Homo sapiens: one gene and its partners. The protein of the gene in region 1 purifies or fractionates together with the protein of each later gene. This does not show direct contact. Each region holds a gene or a part of one and is shown in the gene's direction. Other genes may lie near its edges.

Region 1 (2,892 bases):
GCCTGTATGTGCCAGACACTATTCTAAGTGCTTTCTATACAGTAACCCTTTAATCTTCACAAGAATCCTATGATATAGGATGGTTTTATCGTCCAGATTTTACAGATGAGAGCACTGAGGCACAGAGCTAAGCAACCTGCCCGACTAGTCTCACAACTAATAAGCACCAGGGCAGGATTTGAACCTAAGCAGCCTGGCACCAAAAATCTGTGCTGTTATACTTTTCTTCAGAATGGGGAGGTATGCTTTACCTACTCTTCCAGCTTTGGGGTCTCAGATGAAATGGAGATCACAAGAAAAGTCTAACATCCAGTTACAATAGAAAGTATTCCAGAAATAGCAGTTATGATTGTATAGATACTGTTGTGGCCACTGCTACTGTTGCTGCTACTGCTGCAAGGAGGCTGGGAGCTGCTGGGCCATGGAGAGCTTGGGAATGCTACCCAGGGGACTGGAGCATCGTGTGGGAGGTGGGGCTGGATGGCCATCCAGGCTCTCACACCCTGAGATTCATTGATTTGATTATAACCACATGGGAGGAGCTTCATCTCACCCCGCAGGCAAACCACACACACACACTTGCATGCACACATGCACACACTTATGCCCACATGCGTACGTGTACACACACACACAAGCCCATTCATAAGCCTTATTGGCTGCCTGTCTCTCACTGAGCCCTAGAAAGAGGACTGATGATTGGCTTTGGCCAGGTGGCTTGGGGGTCATAATTAGGGCCAGAAGAAGGAGCAAGGTCATGGGGTTCAGACTGTGCCAAAGTGCACTTACTCCATGACACACGTGGATCAAGTGACAGGGCCCATGGAAGCTGGCCTGCTACAGCGTGGCTGCTTGCCACAGGTCAGACCATGCCATCCCACAAGTTGATTAGAATAAACCTGAGTGTGTTTGGGATCAGGGCCAAGAAGACACACAGCTGGTGGGCTGTTGGCAGCCGACTCCCAGCGTGGTCAAGTCCACTGGCGTTCAGTCATTCGTGTGCATTCTTCCGTTACCAGCGTGCATTCAGCACCACTGCATATGAGGCTTCAAGTCAGGCACTGAGCGTTGAGAAACAAACAGGATGTGGTCTCTGCCCTGGAGGAACCCACACACACCTTAGCGGAGAGGGGGAAAACAACCTAGCAAACACAACACAAAGTGGCGATTCTCAAGTCAAGTCAAGACCCATGGGATGGTGAGTAAATGGAGAGGTACAGAGACCTTATCAGAGAGTGTAGTGGTTAGAAGCATGATTTTTGGAGCCATAAAGTCTAGTACCATGCAGTAGTTTGGTGGCCTTATGTAGTATCCCTAACCTACTTAGAGCATAGGGTTGTGAAGATTAATTAAGAGGTGTAGGAAAGGTTGTAGCCAGATGCCTGGCATCATAACCACCACCGTCATCACTGTCGCCACCATCCTCCTCCTCCTCATCTTTTCGCACCACCAAGCCTACTAATGCCCACGGGCTCTCAGGGGTTTATTTCATTAATGCCCTGGCTCTGCCCTAAAAGCCGAATGTGGAGGTGGCTGTCCTCAGCTCTTGTGGCAGGTACTTGAGCTCTTCCAGGTGCTTGTGGGTAGGGTGGACCCAGGTGGAGGCCGGACTCACCAGCTTCTGCAGTTACTTCCAAATGGGAGAGTCTAGGATTTCAAATGGGATAGTTGAGGATTCTTTCGTACTCAGGAGACATTTACCAGGAGAGCCCAAAGGAACAACTTGGAAGTTTGCACTTGCCCCCTTCTCCCTTCCAGACCTTGGGCTCTGCAGATCTCCCTCTGGAGGGCTGTCCCTAGCTCAGGGTTCTCAACTCTTGGTCTTTGTTCACGCAGTGAAAGCTGGTGAGATATTTGTATATGTAAAGGCTGCAGGCATTTCCTTGTGTGGCTTTACCCTCTGAAGCCCTGGCCCAGGGCTCAGGTTTCGTAAGGGCTGACAAGGAAGTCCAAGAAATCTGCGTGAGGAGGTGCCAATAACGTGGATGCTGACGGGAACAGGAGGAACCAGTGCCAAGAGGAAATTGTGTGGCTGTCAGGCTGCCGATAGCCTCATGGATAGGGGAGGTCCCAGCGCCTGGCCTGCACCTGTCTGCCAGCCCCACCCTTGTCTTACTTGTGGTGGCTCTTGGGGATGTTCAGAACTTTATGGGGCGCCCTCCTTTTATGGAGACAGATAAAACATCTAGTGTAGCTTTAAACCAGCTAGGTTCCTTTATTTTGCAGAGACTGTTGCTTGCAGCTTCTGGGCACAGGGCTGGGCTCTGCAGTGTATGGGAAGTGATTGTCCAGCCCATCCCTTTTCTTCTTCACACTGTTTCCTCTAACAGTGCCAATATCTGTCCCTTGCACTGACCGCGAGCATCTCTCATTAGGTGGGTGCTAGGAAGAAGTGAAACACACATCAGCCTCTTCTGATACCTGCTGTGCAGTGAAAAAAGCCTGGGGCTTGGGGTCAGAAATACCTGAATGGAAGCCCTTGGTTCTGCCCAAGACTAGCTGGGTAACCCTAAGCAATTATTTAACCTCATGGGACCTCAGTTTGCTTACTTATAAAACGGGGAAGTAATGAGTCATACCTTTCATACAGCACTTAGACAAGGACAGCCAGGGCCCCCCCACCTGGGTCCTGTGCTTTTAGATCAATATTTCTCAATACTTAATGTGCACACAAAGCCCTGGGGATTGTGTTAAGCCACAGATTCTGGCTCAGTAGATCCTAGCCCTGAGATTCTGCATTTATAAGAAGCTCCCTGGTGATGCCCATGCTGCTGGTCCAGGGACCACACTTTGAGTGGCAAGGCCTTTCAGGGTTTTATGAGAATTTTTTTTTTTTTTTTTAGCTGGAGTCTCGCCGTTGTCCAGGGTGGAGTATAGTGGTGCGATCTCTAT
Region 2 (3,500 bases), on another chromosome or scaffold:
AGAGATGGGGTTGGCCAGGCTGGTCTTGAACTCCTGAACTCAAGTGATCTGCCTGCCTCAGCCTCCCAAAGTAATGGGATTACAGGCATGAGCCACTGTGCCTGGCTGAGAAATTTTATTTAACCTTATATTAATCTAGCTTCCTTGACTCTATCTTGTTTGGCATTGGACTTCTGTAAGTCCTTCTGTTTTAGGCATGCTTTTTTTTTTTTTTTTTTAAAGAAAAGAAACAGGGTCACCCTCTGTTGCCCGAGCTAGAGTGCAGTGGTGCCATCATAGCTCACTGTATCCTCGAACTCCTGGCCTCAAGCAATCCTCTGACATCAGCCTCCTGAGTAGCTGGGACTATAGGCACATGCCACTGCATCCAGCTAATTTTTAAATTTTTTTGTAGAGGTGAGGTTTCTCTATGTTGCCCAGACTGGCCTCGAACTTCTAGCCTCAAGTGATCCTCCTGCCTTGGCCTCCCAAAATGCTGGGATTATAGGTGTGAGCCACCACAACTGGCTAGGTATGCTTTTATAAGCATCGTAGAGGTACTTTTTTCTTAAACCAAGTCTGACAATTTTTGTCTTTTCACTTTAATTGGCAAGTTTAGTCCACTTATATTTGTTGTGATTATTGACAGAACAGCTCTTGTTTCTGTTATCCAGTTTCTACTGTTTTTTTCTGTGCTTTTTTTTCTTTTTGCCCTTTCTTTGGGGGTTGAATATTTGCTTGTTCTTATTTTATCTCCTTTATTAGTTTGGAAGTTGGCATTCTAGTTCTTTTCTTTTAGTAGTAACTCTTGAAATTTTACTTGCATACTTAACAAAATCTAACACTATTATACCCCCAGTGGTAAGAGGGACTTTAGAACATTTAATTTCAATCACCCACTCTTCACTTATAAGGAGTTGTCTCATATTTAGTTCTAATTTTAATTTTTTTTTGAAACTTAGTTATTTATTTTTTAGAGATAGAGTCTCATCCTGTTGCCCAGACTGGCCTCAAACTCCGGGGCTCAAGCAATCCTCCTGACTCAACCTCCAGAGTAGCTGGGACTACAGGTGCACATTGTGCCTGGCTTAGTTCTCTCTCTCTTTCTTTTTTAACTCTACAAATCGGGCATTATAAATTGCTATACAGACAATATTTACATATTTATCTACATGTTTGCTGGTTTATTTGCTCACTATTCTTTGTATCTAGGCCTTCCTCTGGGATCATTTCCTACCTGAAATATGTCCTTTAGCTATCCTTTTTATTTTCTCTGATTCTCTCCTAGGGGACTATTTCATACTTCTTCCTGTCTTTTCAAATCTCCAATACTTCTTCCATAGTCCTTGCTCTCAGTTAGTAATTATAGTCCCTCTTTACCAGAAGACAGAAGGAATCGGAAGAGGCCTTTCAAAAATTTTCACTACTGCATTTACCCACTAGTGTTCATACATGCTCCCTTTCCTGTTGTTACCTGATAAACCATCATTATTCCTAGCAAAGGCTAATCCCTCTACTTGAGTGCTAAATCCCGTCTCCTCTCACCGACTCACCAATATTTTACCAGTGACTCTCCCTTCTAATGTTGTATTACCCCTTTTTCCTATCTTTATTGTATCATTTCTATCAGCTTTCAGTTGTCCCTGGTACAGCAAAATTCTTTTCTTTTAGAGACAGAGTCTCACTCTGTTACCCAGGCTGGAGTGCAGTGGCATGATCTTGGCTTACTGCAACCTTCGCCTCCCAAGTTCAAGCAATTCTCATGCTTCAGCTTCCTGAGTAGCTGGAATTACAGGTGTGTGCCACCATACCCGGCTAATATATATATATATATATATATATATATTTTTTTTTTTTTTAGTAGAGATGGGGTTTCACCATGTTGGCCAGGATGGTCTTGATCTCTTGACCTCGTGATCCGCCTGCCTTGGCCTCCCAAAGTGCTGGGATTACAGGCGTGAGCCACCGCGCCTGGCCTAATTTTTGTATTTTTAGTAGAGATGGGGTTTCACCATGTTAGGTTAGACCAGGCTGGTCTCGAACTCCTGACCTCAAGTGATCTGCCTGCCTTGGCCTCCAAAAGTGCTGGGATTACAGGCGTGAGCCACGACACCCAGTCAAAAATTTTTTGAAAGAGTTGTATGTATTCGATCTAATTTTTCTCCTTGGACTGTCTTGGTCATGCTCTAATCATGCTTTCATCCTCACTGTAAATGGCAGCTCCATCCTTCTACTTGTCCAGGCCAAAAACCTTAGAGTGATCCTTGACTTCTCTTTTTGCTCTCATATCCCATATCCATAGCAAAATCCTGCTAACTTTGCCTTTGAAATATATCCAGAACCTATTGGTATCTTACCCCTCTACCACCCCAGCTGGTCCAGTCCACTATCATCTCTTGCCTGGATTATTGTAGTAGCCCCTTTATTAGTCTCCTTGCTTTTGCCTTGCTCCCCTGTATTAGTTTGCTAAGGCTACAGTAAGAAAGTACCACAAACTGTGTCTTTTTTTTTTTCGAGACAGAATCTTGCTCTGTCACCCAGGCTGGAGTGCAGTGGGGCAATCACAGCTCACTACAGGCTCAATCGATCCTCCTGCCCCTGCCTCCCAAGTAGCTAGGACTATAGGCATGCACCACCACACCTGGCTAATTTTTCTATTTTTTATAGAGATGGGGTCTCACTATGTTGCCCAGGCTAGTCTCAAACTCCTGGGCTCAAATGATCCTCTCACCTCGGCCTCCCAGAGTGCTGGGATTACAGGCATGAGCCACCATCCACAGCCCAAACTGTGTCTTAACAGAAATTTATTGTCTCACAGTTCTGGAGGCTAGGAGTCCAAAATCACAGTGTCAGCAGGATTGTTTTTTCTGAGGGCTGTGAGGGAAGGATGGAAAAATCACTCAGCTTATCTAAAAATGTCTATTTTGCTCTTACTTTTGAAAGATAGTTTGTTACAATTGACGAACCAATATTGATACATTATTATTAACCAAAGTCCCTAGTTTACATTCGGGTTCATTCTTGGTGTTGTACATTCTATGTGTTTTGACAAATGTATAATAACATATGTATTCGTTTGCTAGGACTGCCATAACAAATACACAGACTAACCGGCTTAAACAATAGAAGTTTATTTTCTTACAGTTCTGGAGGCTAGAAGTCCAATATGAAGGTCTTGGTAGGGTTGGTTTCTTCTTGTGGATGGCTGTCTTCTATGTCTTCACATGATCTTCCCTTTAAGTTTGTCTGTGTCCTAATCTCCTCTTCTCATAAGGATAAGGGCCCACCGCAATGACCTCATTTTACCTCAGCTACCTCTTTAAAGACTTTAAGATATGAACTTTGGAGTGGGGTGGGGGACACAATTGAGGCCATTAACAGTATGTATCCACCATTACAGTTTCATATAGAATAGTTTCACTGTTACAAAAATATCCTGAGCTCCACTTATTCATCTCTCTCCCCCAGAATCCCTGTTAACCACTGATCTGTTACTATCTCCATAATTTTGCTTTTTCCAA
Region 3 (3,500 bases), on another chromosome or scaffold:
ACTACCTGGAGTTTGCTATATTGCAGCAATATCAGGCAGTGCAGCCATAATGAGAGTTTGGAATTAGGGCAGTAATGACTGTGGTATTACGGGAAAATTGGCATTTTTCTGCCACTTGGGAAGATGTGTTCGAAGCTTTGATACCCTTTGAAAGCTAAGGAGGGCAGTAAGGAATTAAGGGGAGGAGCTGAATGTCCCTCCCAATCTAGAGGTTGTGCTGTCCTGCAGGTAAGTCTTGACTGGAGCTGGGGACGACATGAGGTAATACAGTACATGAACCTGTCCGGGGCAGGCTGTATCAGTGCTGCCAAACTTCAGACCTAAATGTCCTGTCTTAGTGATTCTCAAGGGATAACTGGGTAATTACCATGTCTCTGAAGAGGGGTAAATGTGATTTCTATTTTGAAAGTGGAGACCTTGCTTTCATAATACAGTTGCTGTTGGCCTTCCATTTCTATGGGTTCCCTATCCATGAATCCAGTTGTAGATAAAAAATACAATAATAAAAAATAATACAAATAAATATAACAACTATTTACATAGCATTCACATTGTATTAGGTATTGTGAATAATCTAGAGATGAGTTAAAGTATCCAGAAAATGTGCATAGGTTATTTTTTTATTTGTTTGAAGGGGAGTTTCACTCTTGTCACCCAGGCTGGAGTGCAGTGGCACAATCTCAGCTCACTGCAACCTCTGCCTCCCAGGTTCAAGCAATTCTCCTGCCTCAGCCTCCTGAGTAGCTGGGATTACAGGTGCCCGCCACCATACCTGGCTAATTTTTGTTTTTTAGTAGAGACAGGATTTCACCATGTTGGCCAGGCTGGTCTTGAACTCCTGTCCTCAGGTGACCTGCCCACCTCAGTCTCCCAAAGTGCTGGGATTACAGGCCTGAGCCACGGCGCCCAGCCTTGTTTTGTTTTTGAGACAGTCTCTGTTGCCCAGATTGGGGTGCAGTGGCGCAATCTCGGCTCACTGCAACCTCCTCCCAGGTTCAAGTGATTCTCCTGCCTCAGCCTCCAGGATTGCAGGTGCACGCCACCATGCCTGGCTAATTTTTGTATTTTTAGTAGAGACGGGGTTTCACCATGTTGGCCAGGCTGGTCTTGAACTCCTGACCTCAAGTGGTCCATCCAGCTCGGCCTCCCAAAGTGCTGAGATTACAGACGTGAGCCACCGTGCCCGGCCTGTGCATAGGTTATATACAAATTTTATATAAGAGACTTGAACATCTGGAGATGTTGATATCCAAGGGGGAACCCTGGAACCAATCCGCCTCAGATATCGAGGGACAACTAAACGGTACGAGGTGATACTAAGTTATAGTAATTTTTAAAAACCACTTTTTTGAGGTATGATTGGCATATATAAAGGTGTATATTTAGTGTATACAACTTGAAGAGTTTGGAGATTGTTAAAGTAATTTTTAACTGGGGGGCACCCCTGGAAGGGGGAGAGTGGTATTTATACTATTGGGTTGAGGGAGGATATAAGTTTCTTAAGAGTTAAAAAAGTTTTTGCCAGCTTAATGGTAAGCTATAGAAAGGCAGGGGTTAATGGCAGCTAAGGGGGCTACAGTTTGACCTGAGGGGCTTTGCCCTTCCCTGCCCTTCCACCTCATCCCAGTGTGGCTGGGACAGGGCTGCTGCTTGCAGGCCTGGTATCCTAGAGCCCATCATGTGTCCTCAGAGGGGTGTCAGGAAGCAGCCAGAGCCCTGGGACCACTGGGTGGCTTGAGGTCAGCCCTCCCTGAGATGTGGGTGAACAGGTGCTTAGACTTGTGTGGATGGAACGGGGAGGGGGGTGTGGGAGGTGGGGGATAAGGCACTCTAGATGAGTGCGAGGTAATTCCTGGATCCAGTGTGCTATTTGGGCACCTCCCTTTTCTTTAACATCAATAGCATTTGAAAGCATCTGGGACATCTTGGTCTGCAGGCTTTTTTTGAATATGAGGGAATGGAGGCTTCTCTGTTTCTGGGCACTCACCTAGAAGCCCTGCCAGGCATATAGCAGTAGGAGGTCAGGTTCCCCTCCTCACTGGGAGTTATTGTGGATGTGTCCCCTCTGCCTAAGTAATCTAAGGGAGAGGCTGTACTAATAATAATGAACCTGTATGTTGTATTTATGCCAGGCATTGTTATATGTTCTGCACCATTTTAACTCTTAATCTTTGTAAGAGCATTATGAAGTACTTACATTATTATCACCATTTCATAAATGAGGAAAGTGAGGCACAGAGAGGTTAAATAACTTTCATGTAGCTATTAAGTGGGGAGGTTGGGATTTGAACCCAGAGTTTGCTCTTAACCACACAGTATACTGCTATTGTGTTTTATATTAGGGTTTTTGGTGAGACTGGAAGGCAGGGGGAGAAAGGTATCTGCAATTTTCTTTTTTTTTTCTTTTTTTTGAGACGGAGTCTCGCCATGTCACCCAGGCTGGAATGCAGTGGTATGATCTTGGCTCACTGCAACCTCTGCCTCCCAGGTTCAAGCGATTATCCTGCCTCAGCCTCCCAAGTAGCTGGGATTACAGGCGCGCACCACTACGGCCAGCTAATTTTTATATTTTTAGCAGAGACGGGGTTTCACTGTGTTGGTCAGGCTGGTCTCGAACTCTTGACCTCCTGATCCTCCTGCCTCGGCCTCCCAAAGTGCTGGGATTACAGGCGTGAGCCACCGCGCCCAGCCGGGTATCTGCAATTAAAGTTTCTAATGGCTGAGTTTTGGGTGATGCCAACCAGAAGCCCAGAGGCTGACTCCGGACTAGTTTCCTTTGGGCTGGTGGCATCCCAAGATGGGTGATGGGAGCTGTCAGCCCCTGCCAGGAGGGGCCTTTTATCACAGATATGATTTAGAGTTGCCATTGCACGAAGATAATAAACAAACCAAGCCAGTTTTATTTTATTTTTATTTATTTATTTATTTTTGAGATGGAGTCTCGCTCTGTCGCCCAGGCTGAAGTGCAGTGGCGCGATCTCAGCTCACTGCAAGCTCTGCCTCCTGGGTTCACGCCATTCTCCTGCCTCAGCCTCCAGAGTAGCTGGGACTACAGGCGCCCGCTGCTACGCCCGGCTAATTTTTTGTATTTTTTAGTAGAGATGGGGTTTCACCGTGTTAGCCAGGATGGATTTTATTTTTTAAATTCTTTTTTTTTTTTTTTTTGAGACGGAGTTTCGCTCTTGTTGCCCAGGCTGGAGTGCAATGGCGCGATCTCGGCTCACCGCAACCTCCACCTCCTGGGTTCAAGCAATTCTTCTGCCTCAGCCTCCCAAGTAGGGGGATTATAGGCATGTGCTACCACGCCCAGCTAATTCTGTATTTTTAGTAGAGATGGGGTTTCTCCATGTTGGGAGGCCTCGGCCTCCCAAAGTGCTGGGATTGCAGATGTGAGCCACTGCACCTGACCTAAATTCTTTTTTAAAAAATCTATATCCTTACACATCTTGCATATTTTTAAAATTCTTTTTTTTTTTTTTTTTTTTTTTTGAGACGAAGTC
Region 4 (4,269 bases), on another chromosome or scaffold:
TGCTGCTACAAAGAATCCTTGACCAAAGAACGCCAGAGATTGCCAGGAACCACCAGTGGCTGGAAGAGGCAAGGAAGGCTTCTCCCCAGAGCCACTGGAGGGGGCATTGCCCTGCTGGCCCATGGATTTTGGAGTTAGCCTCCAGAAATGTGCAAGAATACATTTCTGTGTGTTAAGCCACTGAGTCTGTGGCTGTTACCACAGCCCTGAGAAACTCACACAACCTACACCTGGAAGCTGGATTCCTTCAGCTTCTGTGTTCTGATTCCAAAGCCTGGGGGAAAGCAGGATGGGCCTAGCTGGGGTCAGATGTCCGCCCCACAGAACCCAAAAGCCACTAAAGCTAAGGGCAGGAAATAGATGTGGGTTTCGGAGCTGCCCCTTCCAGTATCCTTGATAACCATCACCCTATCCAAAAGGCATTAATTCATATCTCAAGGTCAATTTGGAGGGAGGTCTCTCCAAGCAAGCCCCAGAGTTCTGTACACCTATCAGCTCCTGGGGCAAAGACACAGACGGCTGTAGCCACCGGTGTGGATGAGACAAGGCCAGGAAAGTACCGCTCTGATGACAGAATCAGAAGGACTCTGTGCAGGTTAGAGAGTTAGCAAGGTGATACTGAATGAGGACGACGATAAAACCCAACTCTTGGGTTCCAAGAGTCAACTTCACAAGCAAAATGTGGACGACGCCTGGCTTCACCGCGGCAGTGCCTTGTGAGAAAGACCTGAGGATTTTCTCTGACCAGCCGGCTTAGAGCTTCAGTTGCACGAAAAGCACAGCACTTTTGGCTGGGCTGGGGCGGTGATAGGCCTTTCGGGCTCGGTGCAACCCATACCTAAGACAGAGAGGCAACACAGGCGCCTCCAGAGAACCAGAGGTGCAACCGGGCCACCAGGCTACGTGGCAGAGGTTGCGGGGTAAGGGGGAGGTGGGATGCCTGGGGAGAGGTCAGCGGAGTTATCAAACTAAGGTTCCCGGGCAATGATGGGGCCAGGAGGCAGAGCGAGCAAACGGGGATGATCTGGGGTCTATTCCAAAGAGGTGGCGGGGGAGGTGGTGCTGCTGTGCCCCCAGTCACGGCCATCTCGGCTCCAGAGCCCTGGAGAGCAGTTCCCGGGTTCACACGGACTCTGAAGACAAGCGTATCCTGAGGGTGGACGACTCCTGGAAAGTCCACGCCCAGGCTGGCCTCAGGGGTCCGCTTCTCTGCGTCTCGCCCCGTGCCCGCAGGCGACAGAGTGGCTGGTGTGCTCGGGGGGCCTCCCAGGGCGCGGCGGCCTGCGCCCCTGCCACCTGGGGCTGCTCCCTTTGGAACCTCCTGTTCGCAGGCGGCTCCTCGGCCGTCCGCTCGGAGCTGGGGCGAGGGGCTGGCGGCGGCGAGCGGCGCGGCCCCAAGTTTATGCTAATCCGCAAAGAGCCCGCCTCCCGCCTCCCCTCCGCGGCCCCAGCCGCTAGCAGCGCCGGCCACTCCGCGGGACGCAGCCGCCGCGAAGCGCCAGGCGGCCGGGCCAGCGAGCTCGGGGGCCGAAGGGGACCCCGGGACCCTCGGGGCGGGACCCGGGCCGACCAGCGGCGGGGGCGGCGCGGCGCTGCAGGCGGACACCCGGCGGGGGGCACCGCGCGGGGCCGGGCAGAGGCGCGGGGGCCGCTATGGGCCGCCGCCGCCTGCTCGTCTGGCTGTGCGCCGTCGCGGCGCTGCTCTCGGGGGCGCAGGCCAGGGGCACCCCGCTCCTGGCGCGGCCTGCGCCGCCCGGTGCCTCCCGCTACAGTCTCTACACGACGGGATGGCGCCCGCGGCTGCGCCCGGGGCCGCACAAGTAAGCGCGGGCGGGCGGCGGGCGGGAAGAGGGAGGGATGGGCCCGCGCGCGTCGCCGCTCCCACCTGCCCGCACCCGCGGGGGGCGTCGAGGCCCCGGGCACCCCGAGGCCGCTGCACAGAGGGGGCGGCGCCCGGGGCCGAGCCCCTGCCCAGGCGAGCGCCCTACGCTCCGGGAGGTTGCGGGGCTGGCGAGGAAAAAGGAACCGAGGGGGCCTGGCGCGGCGGCTTGGGATCCTGGCAGTGCCAGCGGAAACCTTTCCAGCGAAGTAACATTTTCCAGCTGCGCTGTGTGCAGACTCCGGGCGAGCGGACCAGGTGGAGGGAGAGGAGGAAAGGCGGTCCGCGCGCTGAGCACGCGGGGCTCCCCCGCCCCGGGCCTCCCTTCTCTCCCCTGGCCCGGCCAGGTAGGAGATAGAGCTGCGCATCCGGGCGGCCGCTGCCCTCTCGCAGTCAGCCTGGCCCCAGCAACCCCATGGGAGCCCCAGCGTGGCCGGGCTGCAGAGCCAGAGCGGGCTCCTGGCTCCGGGCCTGTGCTGTGGCACAGCCGTCCACAGCGGTCGGCTTATGCCAGGCAGCCACCTCCTCAGCCCTTGTGGCTCATCAAGGAGCCTGCTTTCCCCGCCTCAGCTTCTGGTGTTTCGTGGGCAGTGGCTTGCGAACTGGCCTCAGTTAAGTGGGCTGGAGGCTCTGCCTGGGGTGCTGGCTGAACTTGAATTCTAGCTGAATTTGAGAGCTGTTGTAGGAGGAAGAGTACCGACACTCAGTGGGCCTGGGTACATCACAGCGAGCCTCCTGGAGGAGGTGGTACAAGAACTGCTCTGAGAGTAAGGGAACAGGACCAAAGGCAGGGGCTGCAAAACTACGAGGAGAGGTGGATTTCCCCGGGAGCCAGGCAGGGAGGAAGGACAAGACATGGTGCTCTCAAAGGAGTCACTGAGTGGGGACTCGGAAGCCTTAAATGCCAAGATAAGGAGTTTGGAATCAGCGAAGGATGGGGGGGTGTGGCAGGGCACTTGAGGGAGAATCCGGGCTGGCCTCTTCCCCACGCAGGGAGGGGCAGCCACATCAGGCTCCTGGTTCCAAATAGTGCTTAGCCCAGGGGCCACCCATCACGGAGGCTGGAATCAGAGACCAGCAGCGGGGCTGGACCCCAGACCAAGGGCGTTGGCTCCCAGGGACACAGAGAACAGACAGAAGAGACATGGGAGTTTGGAGTCCTGCTGAGGCCCACAGATGGAGGTGGGAGGGTAGGCGCCTCTGTGGGCCTCGCTCAGCCAGATATTCCAGGGGTGCCATTTTCTCCTGTAGGGCCCTCTGTGCCTATGTGGTGCACAGGAATGTGACCTGCATCCTACAGGAGGGAGCGGAGAGCTACGTAAAGGCTGAATACCGGCAGTGTAGATGGGGGCCCAAGTGCCCCGGGACAGTCACGTAAGTGCACTCCTCACCTACACACTTGGAATCCCCTGGCACAAGCGCCAGTCCTGCCTTCAGCTGAGAGCAGCTGCCAACTCCACAAGGGGCTTCTTGGACTCCAGAGAGCCCACCTGAGCCCCCATACAGGCCAGAGTAGAAGGCGGCCCCAGAAAAGAGGGTGCCAAGGAGGACCCCAGGGATTTGGGCTTGCAGCAGAGCATCACCCGCACAGACAGGGGCAGGCTTGGGTTGGAGCCCAGGAACCACAGAGGGACAAGGGGAAGGTTCTGGGGGCAGAGGCAGCACAAGGCTAGGAGGAAGTGACAGAGGCAGAAGGTGAGGGGAGAGGAGGGAGCAGAGGGCCCCTTAGGCAACGGGTGATGCCACAGGGGGGCCTGGCAGGCCCAGGGAGGACTGTGGTGACCACAAGGAGGCAGGCCATGGGGCAGGGAGAGGAAGCCGGAGCAGCAGGGCTGCACGCACATGGGATGCACAGCTCTGTACCTGGAGAGGTTCACGTGTGTGTGTGGAAACAAACCTGTTGTCTCCGGTGTGTCAGTGGGTGAACAGGTACGTGGCTGAACAGTGAGGGCATGGACCCTCGCGAGCCTGCCTGTACCCTGGACCTTCCCTTCCCTGCTCACAATCAGAGGTACCCGTCCATCTGCCTCTCTGACCAGAGCCGAGGTCCCGGAGCAGGCTAGAGAGGAGTGGAAAGAACTAAGGGGAGCAGGTAGGAGCCAAGAGTGGCCCCCAGGGCAGTGAGGGGGCTGCCAGCGCCAGCTCCAGGGCAGTGCCCCTCCCTGCCCACAGGGAGGGCTGGGGCTGTGTCTGATTCTCCCAGGTGCTACTGCAGCCTGAGTGGAATTTCTCATGGCAGCCTGAGCTAGAGGGGGTCCAAGTGGTCTTGGGAGGGATGGGGCAAAATTCCTGCTTCTCTCCAAGCTACCAGGATGGGTGGGACTTCTACCTGCATCCTTCCCTAACATGACTGTGAGCTTCAGGAAGGCCTGCCCTTACCCACCCCTGTC

Evidence for each region.
Region 2: the proteins of FBLN5 (region 1) and TXNDC12 purify together in Homo sapiens (co-immunoprecipitation; one large-scale study listed by IntAct). This does not show direct contact.
Region 3: the proteins of FBLN5 (region 1) and RBPMS2 purify together in Homo sapiens (affinity purification with mass spectrometry; one large-scale study listed by BioGRID and IntAct). This does not show direct contact.
Region 4: the proteins of FBLN5 (region 1) and EMILIN3 purify together in Homo sapiens (affinity purification with mass spectrometry; one large-scale study listed by BioGRID and IntAct). This does not show direct contact.

Annotation. Positions count from the first base shown.
Region 1 is NC_000014.9:91,871,803-91,874,694, reverse strand, and holds part of FBLN5 (fibulin-5 isoform 1 precursor), read left to right. Parts: intron 1-1,019; coding exon of another isoform or gene 1,020-1,198; intron 1,199-2,892. UniProt on the Homo sapiens protein: Essential for elastic fiber formation, is involved in the assembly of continuous elastin (ELN) polymer and promotes the interaction of microfibrils and ELN. Stabilizes and organizes elastic fibers in the skin, lung and vasculature.
Region 2 is NC_000001.11:52,045,192-52,048,691, reverse strand, and holds part of TXNDC12 (thioredoxin domain-containing protein 12 precursor), read left to right. Parts: intron 1-3,500. UniProt on the Homo sapiens protein: Protein-disulfide reductase of the endoplasmic reticulum that promotes disulfide bond formation in client proteins through its thiol-disulfide oxidase activity.
Region 3 is NC_000015.10:64,769,090-64,772,589, reverse strand, and holds part of RBPMS2 (RNA-binding protein with multiple splicing 2), read left to right. Parts: intron 1-3,500.
Region 4 is NC_000020.11:41,364,019-41,368,287, reverse strand, and holds the start of EMILIN3 (EMILIN-3 precursor), read left to right. Parts: upstream 1-1,469; 5' UTR 1,470-1,653; coding exon 1,654-1,820; intron 1,821-3,130; coding exon 3,131-3,253; intron 3,254-4,269.